Homo sapiens: one gene and its partners. The protein of the gene in region 4 purifies or fractionates together with the protein of the main gene of each other region. This does not show direct contact. Each region holds a gene or a part of one and is shown on either strand. Other genes may lie near its edges.

Evidence for each region.
Region 1: the proteins of CCDC7 (region 4) and TVP23B fractionate together in Homo sapiens (co-fractionation; one large-scale study listed by BioGRID). This does not show direct contact.
Region 2: the proteins of CCDC7 (region 4) and ITGA2 fractionate together in Homo sapiens (co-fractionation; one large-scale study listed by BioGRID). This does not show direct contact.
Region 3: the proteins of CCDC7 (region 4) and KAZN fractionate together in Homo sapiens (co-fractionation; one large-scale study listed by BioGRID). This does not show direct contact.

What each region holds. Positions count from the first base shown.
Region 1 is NC_000017.11:18,798,183-18,801,682, forward strand, and holds part of TVP23B (Golgi apparatus membrane protein TVP23 homolog B), read left to right. Parts: intron 1-629; coding exon 630-761; intron 762-3,200; coding exon of another isoform or gene 3,201-3,203; exon of another isoform or gene 3,204-3,247; intron 3,248-3,500.
Region 2 is NC_000005.10:53,058,852-53,062,351, forward strand, and holds part of ITGA2 (integrin alpha-2 precursor), read left to right. Parts: intron 1-1,022; coding exon 1,023-1,161; intron 1,162-2,049; coding exon 2,050-2,195; intron 2,196-3,500. UniProt on the Homo sapiens protein: Integrin alpha-2/beta-1 is a receptor for laminin, collagen, collagen C-propeptides, fibronectin and E-cadherin. It recognizes the proline-hydroxylated sequence G-F-P-G-E-R in collagen.
Region 3 is NC_000001.11:14,605,185-14,608,684, forward strand, and holds part of KAZN (kazrin), read left to right. Parts: intron 1-3,500. UniProt on the Homo sapiens protein: Component of the cornified envelope of keratinocytes. May be involved in the interplay between adherens junctions and desmosomes. The function in the nucleus is not known.
Region 4 is NC_000010.11:32,844,640-32,848,139, forward strand, and holds part of CCDC7 (uncharacterized protein C10orf68), read left to right. Parts: intron 1-603; coding exon 604-687; intron 688-903; coding exon 904-987; intron 988-1,236; coding exon 1,237-1,320; intron 1,321-1,736; coding exon 1,737-1,820; intron 1,821-3,193; coding exon 3,194-3,277; intron 3,278-3,500. UniProt on the Homo sapiens protein: May play a role in tumorigenesis.

The DNA.
Region 1 (3,500 bases), on a different chromosome or scaffold from region 4:
TATTCACTTTCCTTGTGGAAATAAGTTTTGGAAGCAGAGGACCAAATTCTTGGCGACAGTACACCAAGGGTATTGACAAGTTATTTTAAGAAAGTGGCACTGTGTTCAATGAGCCTGTATTCTTTTATATTATAGAATCTACCTTGGAAACAACTTACCACCCTTGTAACTTCCTGGGTATTGCTAAGACATTTTGATTATTGTCCAGAATCCCTTGATTCCGTTTTTTTTTTTTCCTCTGGACCCTAATTTGACCTTTTAGTCTCCAGAATGATTATAACTGTGATTTCCTTGATCATTGGTAGGAAAGGTATCATTTAGAGCTTCCTTATGAATAAATAGTACAAGTGCAAGAAGAATTGAATAGAATCCTATCAGAGACCACTCTTTACTGTCATGAGTTGTGGTAAACCATCCATCCTGCCCTGAAAATGCAAAATTCTTGAGTTAATATAGATCAGTTCCTAAAATTACAAGAGTGATAGTCATGTATTTTTGGGTTCTAACTTAGGAGTTGGGCTGTGTGTATTAATATTTGAACTTGTGGGTAATATGTTTTTTATTAAACATGTTGAACTTTTTATTGATAAATTTCACAACATGATAATTGAATTTATGTTCTTTTATAGGAGTCCTCTCAAGAGAATAAAACTGTGTCAGAGGCTGAATCAAGAATCTTTTGGTTGGGACTTATTGCCTGTCCAGTACTGTGGGTGATATTTGCTTTTAGTGCACTCTTCTCCTTCAGAGTAAAGTGGTTGGTGAGTATCAGTGTAGAACTTTCAAATAATCCATTAAGATGTCTGATGGTAATCATAGGAAGCAACAACTACAACTGAGTCCTTATCATTAGGGACCTATCTTGAATAGGCAGCTTCATCATGTAATTCCCAAGTTTTGCTTCCCAACTTTACCTTTCTCTATAATACTGGAGAAGAGATCCTAAAAAACCCCTTCCCACCAGTTTTCTAGATTATTAGTGGTCTTTTCTGGAAATAATGGTTGGTAACCTATTGCTGCCTAACAAATCACTCCAAAACATAGTGGCTTAGAGCAACAACAGCCATTATCTCACAGTTTCTATGGGTCAGGATCTTGGGAAGGGCTCTGCTGGGAGATTCTGGCTTGGGGTCTTGAGTAGTTGTAGTCAGACAGTAGTTGGAATGATGGGGGTTGTGAGCCATCTCCTCTTCATGAGGTCCCATGGCCTCTCCACATGTTTTTCCCTGTGCCTTCGTTTGGGCTTCTTCATGGCATGGTGGCCTCATGGTGGTGGGACTGCTTACGTGGCAGCCCAGTACTTCACTTGTGGGGTGTTCTAGCTCGCAAGCTTTTACAATCTAGCTAAGATGTCATAGCATCGCTTCTGCTGCCCACTCACATTCAAGGAAATGGGAATTAGGCTCTGCTCTTGATAAGGAATAAGAAGGTGCTAGAAGACTTTGTGGAAGAGGAGATATTGTTGCTGCTGTCTTTGGAAAATATAGTTTGTCACTTGACCCAATTTGTGAGTCTTACTCTTTTTTATATCTCATATTATTTTTTCTTATTCTATCTTATATCTGATATGAATAAATATTGTGTGAATTTTCACACAATATTTATTGATATCAGATATATTTTGGCCTTAATTATGTTTTTCCTCCTAATTTGTAGTATTTTCTTAGTCCTATTTTGCGATATAGATTCTTTTTTTCTTTGTGTGTGCTCATACATTCATACTTTCCTTCTTTGGATTTGGAAGCTTATTGGAAGCTTATTGTCTTTTTTCAGTTCTTCTGGTAGTTACCTTTAATTACTTTATATGTTTATATCATTACCCTCTTTCATGAATTAGGAAATTTATTCAGTATTTATGGAGTTCCTGCTCTGGAAAATGGGAAACTTTACGCTAATATGGTTTCTTTAACTTCTCCCTCCTCCTACCTCTAGAGTTTTGCTTATTATAGTCTTATTTTAGTCCTTCTAGTGGTTTTCTTTGTAACATTAATTAATGTACTTAAACCTGTTTATTGACTTAATAGACTCTGTTTAGAAAGGGAAGAAAATAAACACTCATATTCCTTCCTATGAGTTTCCTCCTTTCTCTCTTGTTTGTTCCAATGTTATTTTTGTGTTACCAAGTTTTATAATAGTTATCTTTTGAAAACATATTTCTTACTGGTTGTTTAGTCTTTGATCTGTTTTTTAAAAAAGTCGATTCATTGCCTATCACCAGTCTTACTGCAGCTTCTCCTTTTACTTATTGGTTGGCTACATTTTCTTTTGACTCATGTTTAAACATATGAGCCTATTGACTATTCTTAAATGATGACCTGGCTGGATTAATATTCTTGGGTCACAGTTTGTTTCTTTTTGGAAGATGCTATTCCATCATTTTCTTTCACTGAATATCTTGGAGAAGTCTGAGGCCAGGCTTACTTAACCTTTGTAATCTCTCCTCATAAGGTGTTTTTTTTTTTAGTTCATGTAACCCAGATGTATCTGTATTTATCTTTCCATATCAAGTTTTCTGGAGTCTGTGCCTTTCTGACAGGCAGACCAAAGTTTTGCTTGGAATCAGGAAAATTTTTTCTGTTAAATCTTTGCATTTATTTATGTTCTATGGTTTGACCTTTCATTTTGAAGTACCAGTTACGTTTATGTTGGATCATTTTTATTTGTTCTCATCTACTATTTTCTTGTTGCTTTAATTATTCATCTTTTCCTTATTTATTCAGCAATTTTAAGAGTTCACTCTTATGTCAGAGCTGTCTGGAGACACAGGGGGATAAGTTAGGGGACAGTAAACAAGTTGACTGCTCCAGTAGAGCTTATGTTCTAGTGGAAGGTAGACAAACAGTAAAAAATACAACAGGGGATGTTAGTTAATGATACAAAGTAATGGGGTAGAGAGTGCAGAGGAGAGAACAGTAACTATTTTAAGTGCTCAGCTAAGGCTTCTCTCTGTATTTCCTTAGCTTTGTCAGCTCCGTTTTCATCTCCTGTTATCTCACCCTCATGCTTTTTGAGTTCTTTTCTTTAGGTTTTTCTGTAGGGTGAAATAGTCCGAGGAATGCTTTTATTTTGGTGGGGTTTTTTTCTTTTCGAGTAGATTCTTCACCTATCTTCTGTATACTATGCTTCTTTTTTCTTTTTTCACTATAGTTTTGCATAAATGCACTTCCCTTTTTCCTTATCCATTTTGCTTATCCTTACAGTGACAGTCCTGTCCAGCCCTTCTCTTTCTGCTGGTTTAGTGCGGGTGAATCCCCCTTGACCACCTTCTCCTGATGTCTGAGGCACGTGGCTGCTGCTCTGAGCTGGAGTTGCAGTGCTGGGTTTGGTGGCCTGAAGACACAGGTGTGATGTGCGATGTGGAGAACTTGCCAGGCTCTTGCTCTCTTGGCTGGGCTGCCTGGTTTTGCGTTCTCTTCCTTAGTGGGGCTCTTGTCTGCTGGTTGGCTGTGCACTCTCTTCTGGTTCTTCCCTTCTGCTTTGGATTGTTTGTAAGACCTTAG
Region 2 (3,500 bases), on a different chromosome or scaffold from region 4:
TCCCTCAGAAAAAATGTAAATGAATCTATGCACGGAGAATTTTGCACACAATCCCATGAGGTTTTTGTACATACGCTGAAGTCCTTTCATGCACCCCAAATCCAGAGTCCCTCAATTTACTACAGTCATTCACATAACTTCATGGTCTCTTATCCTCAAAGTAGAACACATCTTTTCCTTACTTGCTATTTTTCATGGCTTGTATTTTTTAGTCCAACATCTTATCTTTGGTACGCTCTAAGATAGAAGAACAAAAAATTAAAAATAGTGTATCTCATCCTCACCAAATCTGCCTCGTTTGATGATTTATAGCATTGAGTGTTTAGATTGGGTTTCAAGTCAATCCAGAGTAGGCATCTTCCTTTGCCCTCCCCACAGGGCTGACAAATGGTTATTTTCCTTCCAATAGATTGAATGTCACAGCTAAAGTTGCCTCTTGTAGCTGTGCTATTATCAAATAGATGGAATATAGGAATATACTGGAACATTTGAGAAGGGGTCAGGAAGAGAGAGGAAGAAAGCTGAAAGTAGAACAGGTCAGAAGAGGGCCTCCCGAGCCGTGTCTGGGATAGCAGAAGTATCTCCGTCTCTCCCGTGTCAGTACTTCTGTTTCTCAAGCATGTCTCATATCCGGCTGTGAGCTTTCCTTATAAATATGTGGAGTGAGAGACTCACTTCTGACTCCTTTGTAAAGTTCATAAGGGTTTACCATTGGCAAATATATGCCTTTGAAAGGGAAATTTGAAGATGGCTCTGTACCTGTCCTGTACTACAGGTTATTACAAAGGTTTGTCTGTATAACATATCATACTAAATAAAGTCCAAAATAACACAGCCAATGGGAAGGCTTGTTCTCTAGCACAAATATATTAAGACAATTCTACAATATGTCAATATATGTTCATATATATTTCATCATTTTTAATAAATCTAAACAACTTATTTCAATGTTTTGCCTACCCTGCATTCTTATGTTTTAAAGGTGATTTGTTTCAATGATCTTCATTTTTCAATTATTTTAGGATATTCTGATGCTGGGTGCAGTGGGAGCTTTTGGCTGGAGTGGGACCATTGTCCAGAAGACATCTCATGGCCATTTGATCTTTCCTAAACAAGCCTTTGACCAAATTCTGCAGGACAGAAATCACAGTTCATATTTAGGTAAGGCATGGTAATAATTGGCTCAGCAAACTTAAGTTCCCTTGCTTTAAACCAGCTCTTTGTTGAATCTCAGGGTGAGTTCAGCAAAATCCTTGAACTGTCATCTAATTATCATATTTATTACACATACATATGTTGTCTCTTTGCCAATCGGGCCTTAAGGCATAACTACTTATTGGAATACTATATTATACTCACTAGTTTCTTCTGGCTGGTCAAGTGGTTGTAATTCCTGGAACATGATTGTGTTCCTCCAAAATGGAAATAGTTCCCAAAAGTCAATACAGTAAGTGATAGTCTTATAGTATTTTAGAGCTCTTAGTCTTCTTGTTCTTATAATAAGCAGCCACTGATTTTGCAGACTTACTATGGGACAGTTCCTGAGCTGCTAGTCTATCTACATAAACATTTAAATCTTTCCAACAAGTCTTTCAGGGATGTTTTGCCTTTGAGAGATAGCAAGATTAACAACTTGTCTAACGTTCAACAACCTAGTAAGCGGCAAATCCAGAATCTGAACCTCAGCCTGTTTCCAAGACCTGTGTTCTTTCTACTGTGCAACACTACCTTTTAAATACATTTATTCATTCGTTCAAGAAATATTTTTTGAATGCCAGGTTCACAGGTGGCTGATGAGAACAGCGTGGAATCTAGAGGCAGTTTTATAGGTAGAAGTCCCACCTGCAAAGGGAAGTGCTGCAGGTCAAAGGACAGGAGCAATTCATCTTAGAAAAAGGAAGACATGTCCTCAGTGATGTATTCAGGAGCACTAGAAACTTTGCATCACATCTAACACAAAAGGATCTCTGGTCACCTTTACTCACTTCTTTTAACTTTATTTTGCTCAGATAGTCAATGTTAATCACTCTGTTGCTCCTTCCCTTTTAGGTTACTCTGTGGCTGCAATTTCTACTGGAGAAAGCACTCACTTTGTTGCTGGTGCTCCTCGGGCAAATTATACCGGCCAGATAGTGCTATATAGTGTGAATGAGAATGGCAATATCACGGTTATTCAGGCTCACCGAGGTGACCAGGTAAATCTCACTGTTTAGCAGGTGAAATTAATTTTAGGGGCAACTGGGCAGGTGGGGAGTCAGGTGAACAGAAATGGAAAACAACATGGCCTGAGTGCCTACTCTGTGATTGGCTCTGTAATCTGAGTTTACTTAGTGTATTCCTTAAATCATCACAACAATACCAAGAAGACAGCCCTCCCTTTTGACAACTTACTGGGAATTTAGCTAGCTTTCTAAGGTCACACAGCGTCCATGGATTGAGCTGTCATTAAAACTCAGTCCTTTCTGGACTCAGAGGCTGTCCTGAATGATTACATCCCCTTCATGTTTTTGACTCCCTGGATTAATAATGCATGGATATTATTTAGTTGTGATGGCAGGCATGTAACCACTGCTTTGTAGGTAAGCACACACTAGGAACAAGGATTTGGAGAGGAAATAATGAGAAGAAGGGAGCAGCACAACATTATAAGGACTGAACTTTTACATCTGAACCTGTCAGAATGTCCTGTTGGTTTTGAAGATTCTAAAAGTAAAACAATTATCTTCTCTGCCACTTTCAGCTGATGGGTGACAGTTTGGTAGTTAGACCCTATGATGAATCCCAGATATGGCCCACTACAGCAAAGATCTGTTGCTAGAGCAAAGGCCAGCTGATTGCTTCCTGTTTCCTTACTAAACAGTTTTGACCCAGGGGCTTGACACACATTTAAAATGAGCATCACTAATCCCTGACAACCAACAAAAAGTGGTTTCCTTCTTTAAGCTGGAGAAACTTACAAAGATTTCTCTTCTCTGAGATTAAGTGTGATCCTGCTGTTCCTATGGATTTTCTAGGAGTAAGAAGACCCGAGTTCTTGACTTCCGTGACCACAAATTAGCTATGGTCACATACTTTTCTCTCTTTTTTAATATTTTAAAGAAGTTCTTCTTTAATTTAGAAAATAACAGTGACAGTGTTATGGAAGGAATCATTTCTTAGTCATTTCTAAATCCTCAAAAAGTGTTCACATAGGCATGCATTGAACGTTGTTGAATGGGATGAAGGTTCAAAGTCTCAGCTTTTCTTATTTTAATTTATCTCCACCTTGTCCTCCTGTCCCAATCTATCCAGCAACTACTTACCTGTCTCATATCATGCCATGTACACTTACATCATCATATGTGCTTTCCCACTTCCCTCTGCCTAGAAAACTCCATGTCCTTCTTACTTTGCAATTTGAATGATATTTTAACTTTCTAAGCCTTCCTGACTCTCCTGCTCTCTGATCACTCAGCCTTTGGGACTTGCCTCTATTACAATTTATTTTACTATAGAAGCTT
Region 3 (3,500 bases), on a different chromosome or scaffold from region 4:
TTCTCTTTGGTCAAGGTGAATAGTTTAATGTAGCAGTAAATGAGAACTGGTTTCATTGCTTTGGTCAAACTTTTTAATAAATAATAATATGCACTTACAATATATCAACTTCCCTGGCAAGCGCTTAACATGCATTATTGAATCCTGAGGCCAGCGAGGTGACAACTATAGCTGGCCCCCACCCAGCACAGTAAAAAATCTGTCTATAACTTTTGACTCCCCCAACACTTAACTCCTACTAGCCTACTATTGACCGGAAGCCTTATGATAACGTAAACATAGCATAATATAAACAGTTAACAGATAACATAAGCAGTTGACTTATACATACTTTTATGCCCCATGTATTATGTATTTTATAATTAAGTAGAGAAATCAAGTAAGCTAGAGAAAACAAAATATTAAGAAAATCATAAGGAAGAGAAAATATATTTGCTATTCATTAAGTGGAAGTGGATCATCATAAAGGCCTTCATCCCCATCATCTTCATGTTGAGGAGGAGGAGGAAGAGGAAGGGTTGGTCTCGCTGTCTCAGGGGTGCCAGAGGTGGAAGAAAATTCACATATAAGTGGACCTGCACAATTCAAACCTATGTTCTTCCAGGTCAACTATGTAATGCCCGTTTTTCAAAAGAGGAAACTGAGTCTCAGAGAAACTAAATCACTTGTTTGCAGTGAGATAGTGATGACTACAATGGGGATGATAGTAGCAGACTTCAGCATAGTGTGTACTCTGAGCCAGATACTGTTCTAAGTGATTTTCTGGATTAATGCATTTCAGGAATGCATTCAGTCTTCATAATGACTTATTGGGCAGGTACCATGCTCGTACCCATTTTCCATAGGAGAAAACTAAGGCACAGAGATGACACATTTACTTGCCAAAGGGCATATGGTCAGGAAGTGACCAAGCTCTGGCTCTAGAGTCTGTGTTCTTATTCATTCCACTTTGACATCCAGGATCACTCAACTGCCACATGACTGAGCCAGGAATGCAAACCCACTAGGTCTCTCTGCTGTTTAAACCTGTGTATGCTTCTCTGCCCTGCCTCCTAAGTCAGAAGCATCCTTTGGCTTGTTGCATTAGGGAGGTTCAGGGAGCTGTAGCCTTGTCTCTACTCCTGATTAAACTCCTGTTTCCCTAGACTGGTGGTAGTTCCTGGGTCCTTACGGTAAAGTCTTATGCTTGAGAGTTAGGCAATCAACCAGCCTCTCAGCCATCAACTGACAAAGAAGGGACTGGATTCTGTTTGCAAGACTGGCAGCCCAGGGGCCACTTATCACTAATAAAAAGGACTATTTTGATCCTGGACTTGGAGCCTCCAATTTCTTGGACTTCGTGTGTTTCATCTCTCTTGGGAAGGATGAGTCCAGGCAAAGCCAGAGTCTTGTGGCAGCCTTATTCTCCATCCATCCCATGTCTTTTCTTTTGCCTGAGTTCTCTCTCTGTGGCCTCAGTAGCCTCTAGCACCCCAAGACCATGCCCAACAGAGGACTTATTAACCTCAAACAGATACCTTCATGCTAGGGTTTCTTAGCCCCAGTACTATTGACATGTGGAGCAGATAATTCTGTGTTCTCAGGGGGCTGTCCTGTGTGTTGTAGGATATTTAGCAGCATTCCTGGCCTCTACCCACTAGATGACAGTAGAACCCTTCACACTCCAGTTGTGACAACTAAAAATGTCTCCAGAAGTTGCCAAATGTCCCCTTCAGGTCAAAATTATCCCTGGTTGCGAACTGCTTTTTATGCAGTGGTGTTAGGGGAGACTTCAATTGTTAGTCTTGGAATGACAGCTCTGTGAGGTCAGGGAGTTTTATCTATATTTTACTGTATCCTCACCACCTAGAGCAGTGCTTTGTACATAATGTAAGAGCTCAGTAAATACTTGCTGAATGAATAGATGGATGGATGGGTGAATACTAAATGATGGGGTGTGTGGACTTTGGTCTACTTTATACATGGTATCATGAGGATCATTGATTTAATGATAGATGATTTTAATTGAGTGCTTACATACCATATAACAAGCACTGTTTCAAATTCTTTACCTATAATACCTCAACGAATCCTTTAAACCACCTTATGAGGTAAGTACAGTGTTTGTCATTTTACAGATGAGAAAGTTGAGGCACACAAAGGTCACATGACTTGCCCAGGGTCACCGAGCTAGCAAGTGGCAGAGCCAGGATACAAACACAAGCCAGTGTGATTCCAGAGACTGCCTGGCGTCTCCACCAGGATGCTCTGGAGCTTGGCATCCTTTTTCCCATTACTGCCCAAGAAACTGTTATTGTTCTAATGTTGGCATTGTGGCAATTATAATTAGGATTTGCATGTCAGACACTAACTCATTCATCGTCAATCCTCAGAGTTCTGCTGGACAAAATATGCTCTGTCACTTCTGAAGAATCCGTAGCCAGCAGGGACTCCTGTCTGGCCAGAGGTAAGAGGACTGCTTAGTGCTGAGCCATGTTCAAACGTGAGAATCTCTTCTCTCTGCCTCACTGCTGGGCTGTGACCAAAGAGAATCGCAGAGGGGACTTGACTTTCCTACCTTTATGGGAAAGGGAACAGTGGACCCCAGAGCTTCTTAGTGGGGTTATGGCTCATTTTTAGCAAAAGGGATGTTCCAGGATCAGAACTGGGGAGGCAGAGTGACTTTTGAGATCATCCAAGGGGGCAATAAGAGCAATAGCCAGTGTTCGTTGAGGCTTTCCCAGATACTGTGATGAGCTCAACAAACATTTCCTCAATTTACCTTCATATTACAGAGAGTTAGATATTGTTATCCTCTCCATTCCACAGATGAAGACATTGAAGCTTAGAAGGGTTAAGTTGCTTTTCCAAGCTCTGGAAAGTAGTCCACTAGTGAACAGAAAAACAGGGGATTAGAACACAGGTTCACACGTTTGACTGACCCTGAAATCTGCTCGCTTCGTTAAGACGAGAATATCCAGATGTCACTATCAGGTAGCCCAAAGACATGCCAGTAGGACGGTTTTGCTATTTTGCTTAACGCCTTCCCTTCCTCTTTTTTTCTTCCTTTCTTCTTCCTCGCTTCTCTCTGTCTCCATCTATTGTGAGAGATTGGGCACATAGGCCCAGAGACCACAGATTTAATAAGATGGGGACTGAGTTATCTTGGACTCACAGCCTCATAGGTATAACTGACATGAAAACATAATTTTCTAATAAAGGTCTAGATGGGTGTAATGGAAAAATAGACAATGAAGTGACAAATACAGGAGCCTTCACAGATGTGCATGACAATGGTAATACGTAATAAAAACAGGCTGGAAAATACACTAATTTCACCACTAGGGGTTAAAACTGGCTGTGATAGATTATTAAAAAGTACAACTGTTTGGATAGATTGGAATTGGACACTGCAGAGAACAGCTACTACCTGGGACCTTCTCCCCCAGAGAAAGAGCGCGTCTTAAGGAGAAGGAAGATGTGGATGATACTGGGTTTAGATCTTGAATAATAGCTTTTCT
Region 4 (3,500 bases):
TAAGAGATGCATTATATGGTAAAGTCAGTGGTTAAGGAATTATAAAGTGTCAGTTTGTACATCAATTTTGTCATTATCTTGATGTGGTCTTGTTCAAATCATGAAGCATCTCTGAACTTCAATATAATAGGCTTATATGAGTTCTAATAGCCCTTCAAATTCTGTTTTGTGATGCTTACTGCAATAAGACATGTTGTGACTCTTCTACTATAATAATAAAAACTCACATGTGCACTACACATGCACACACACACATAAAATGTTTACCTTATAAAATATATTGAAATCTGCTTTATTTCTATAGAGACTAATAAGGAACTCTTAGCAGATGCTATTGGAAGAGGTATAATAAAGGGGTCAATTAAAACACAATTTAAATGTCACCAAGGTAAAAAAAATTTTTTTCAAGACTAATATTTATGGTTTATTCATATTCCCGGAGTTAAATTAAGTATGAACCTTTAATGACAATAGTACCAATATGTTAGTATTATATAGGTGAAATTCTAAATGAATATCCTCCTATAATTAAACACATACACATACTCAGATTTGGTAATGTTTACCTTTCAAAATATATTGATATCTGTTTTATTTATATAGAGACTGATAAGGAACACTTAGCAGATGATACTGGAAGAGGTATAATAAAGGGATCAATCAATGCACAACTAAAGGGTCACCAAAGTAAGAAAAAGAATTTTTCACATCTAATATTTATGGCTGATTGATATTCCCTGAGTTAAATTAAGTATAGACCTTTAATAACAAAACTACCTATATTATAGTGTTACATAAGTAAAATTATTCATGAATATCCTCCTATAATTAAACACAAAAACACACACAAGTATGGTAATGATAATCTTACAAAATATACTGAAATCTGTTTTATTTCTATAGAGACTGATAAGAACTTCTTTGCCTATGCTACTGGAAGAGGTCTAATGAAGGAGTCAACCACGACACAATTAAAAAGTCACCCAGGTAAGAGAAAACAATTTCAAGACTAATATTTATGGTTTATTTATATTCCTGGAGTTAAATTAAGTGTGGACATTTAATGGCAATAGTACCTATATGTTGGTATTACACAGGTAAAATTCTTCATGAATACCCTTCCATAATTACACACACACACACACACACACACACATACACACACACACAGATACACACAGAGGTATGGTAATGTTTACCTTATAAAATATATTGAAATCTGTTTTATTTCAATAGAGACTGATAAGGAATTCTTGGCAGATGCTATTGGAAGAGGTATAATAATAGGGCCAATCACTACACAACTGAAGAGTCACCGAGGTAAGAGAAAGAATTTTTCAAGTCTAATATTTAGGCTTATTTATATTCCCTGAGTTAAATTGAAGTATAGACCTTTAATGACAACAGTACCTGTATCATAGTACTTTCCATAGCAAAAGATGCTATTGGAAGACATATAATAAAGGGACTATCAATGCACAATTAAAGAGTCACCAGGGTAAGAAAAAGAATTTTTGAGTCTAATATTTGTGACCTATTTATGTTCCCTGAGTTAAGTATAGACCTTTAATGACAACAGTGTCTACATGTTATTATTACATAGGTACCTATATCATAGTGTTACATTGGTGAAATTCTTCATGAATATCCTTCTATAATTAGTTAAACACACACGTATACACATGTATGGTAATGTTTACCTTATAAAGTATTTTGAAATCTGTTTAATTCTATAGAGACTGATAAAGAACTCTTAAAAGATGCTATTGGAAGAGATATAATAAAGGGACCAATCAGTGCACAATTAAAGAGTCACCAGGGTAAGAAAAATAATTTTTGAGTCTAATATTTGTGACCTATTTATGTTCCCTGAGTTAAATTAAGTATAGACATTTAATGACAATAGTGCCTACATGTTAGTGTTACATAGGTAAAATTCATCATGAATATCCTTTAATTAAGCTCTAGCATTTACTATCAGTGGAACATTAGCATATTATTGGTTTTAAAACTCATCCATTTGAAAAGTAATGCATAAAAATTCAGTGTTACAGTTACCTTAGAGTAGTCTCAATGTAGGCATTTCCAAAGCTATTCTACTTACTTTTGTTTCTGAAAAGTGATATTTAATTAGCAAAAGCAGAAAGGCAAAAGCACAAAGGCTAGCTGAAGACTGCGATGACAAGAGGAGTATAACACATAATTATTTCACTGGTTATCCATTCCTTCTATTTGATAAAAATGTCAGGCAAATTTATAAAATCTCACCTGCAATACAGTACTTTATTTGTGTTACATAATTCAGAGATTACATTACTGGCTTTCATCTTGGTGTAAGGGTGTTATGTAGTTATACAATTTTCTTTATCTCTGGTGTGATACAAAAAGAGGCAGACAGCTTAACAGAGAAATAAGGTAAAGAGACACATTCGAAGCCGGCCCTCTAAAACCAATGTTATCCAAGGTACTGGATGCATGTTCAAGGCTCTGCCCCTTGGAGAGCAGCAGTAGCACTTCACACTACAGGCAAGAGACTTTAGTACAATAGCCCAGTCACATCGCTATGCAAATAAATAAGGAGAGAACAATGACAAGCCCCAGATAGAGGAGGAGGAAATCAGTACCTGGAGATGCTACAATATACTACGGAAACTGTCAAAACTTGAGCAAAAATTATTAACATGCAAAGAAACAGTGAAGTGTGACCTACACCAAGGAAAAGGGCATGCCACAATAACTGTTTGTGAGAGTTCCAGGTGTTGGACCTAGCCAACGAAACCTCAAAGCACTTATTATAAGTGTGTTCTTAGAGTTAAAGGAAATTATTCTTAAGGAAGAAAAGGAAGGTAACAGAGATATCAGCAAATAATATAGAAATTTCAAAAGACAACACAGCAAAACCCTATCTCTACAAAAAATACAAAAATTAGCCAGGCATGGTGGTGCACACCTGTAGTCCCAGCTACTTGGAGAGGCCAAGGCGGGGGACCACTTGAGCCCAGGAGGTTGAAACTGCAGTCAGCCATGTTCACACCTCTGCACTCCAGCCTGAGTGACAGAACAAGATCCTGTCTCTAAAAAAAAAAAGGAAAAGAAAAGAAAAAGAAATTTCAAAAGAAAAAAGAACTAAAATACATGTGTAACATAAATGGTTACCTTAAAAAGTGTTTTGAAATGTGTTTTATGTCTATAGAGACTGATGTAGAACCCTTGACAAATGCCATTGGTTCAAGTAAAACAATTGGTGAGATAAAGACACAACTAAGGACTCACTATGGTAAGAATAATAATTTTAAGTCTAATATTTACAGTTTATCTTCTCTGGGGTTTAAGTATGAATCTTTAATGATAACAGTACCTATATGTTAATATTTCATGGGCAAATGTCTTCATGAATTTTCTCATATAATTAGTTAAACTCTCGTATTATCAATGGGAAATTAGCTAGAAAGTTTTAAAACCTCTAGACAATGATTTTAAAAAATATGAGGTTTATAATT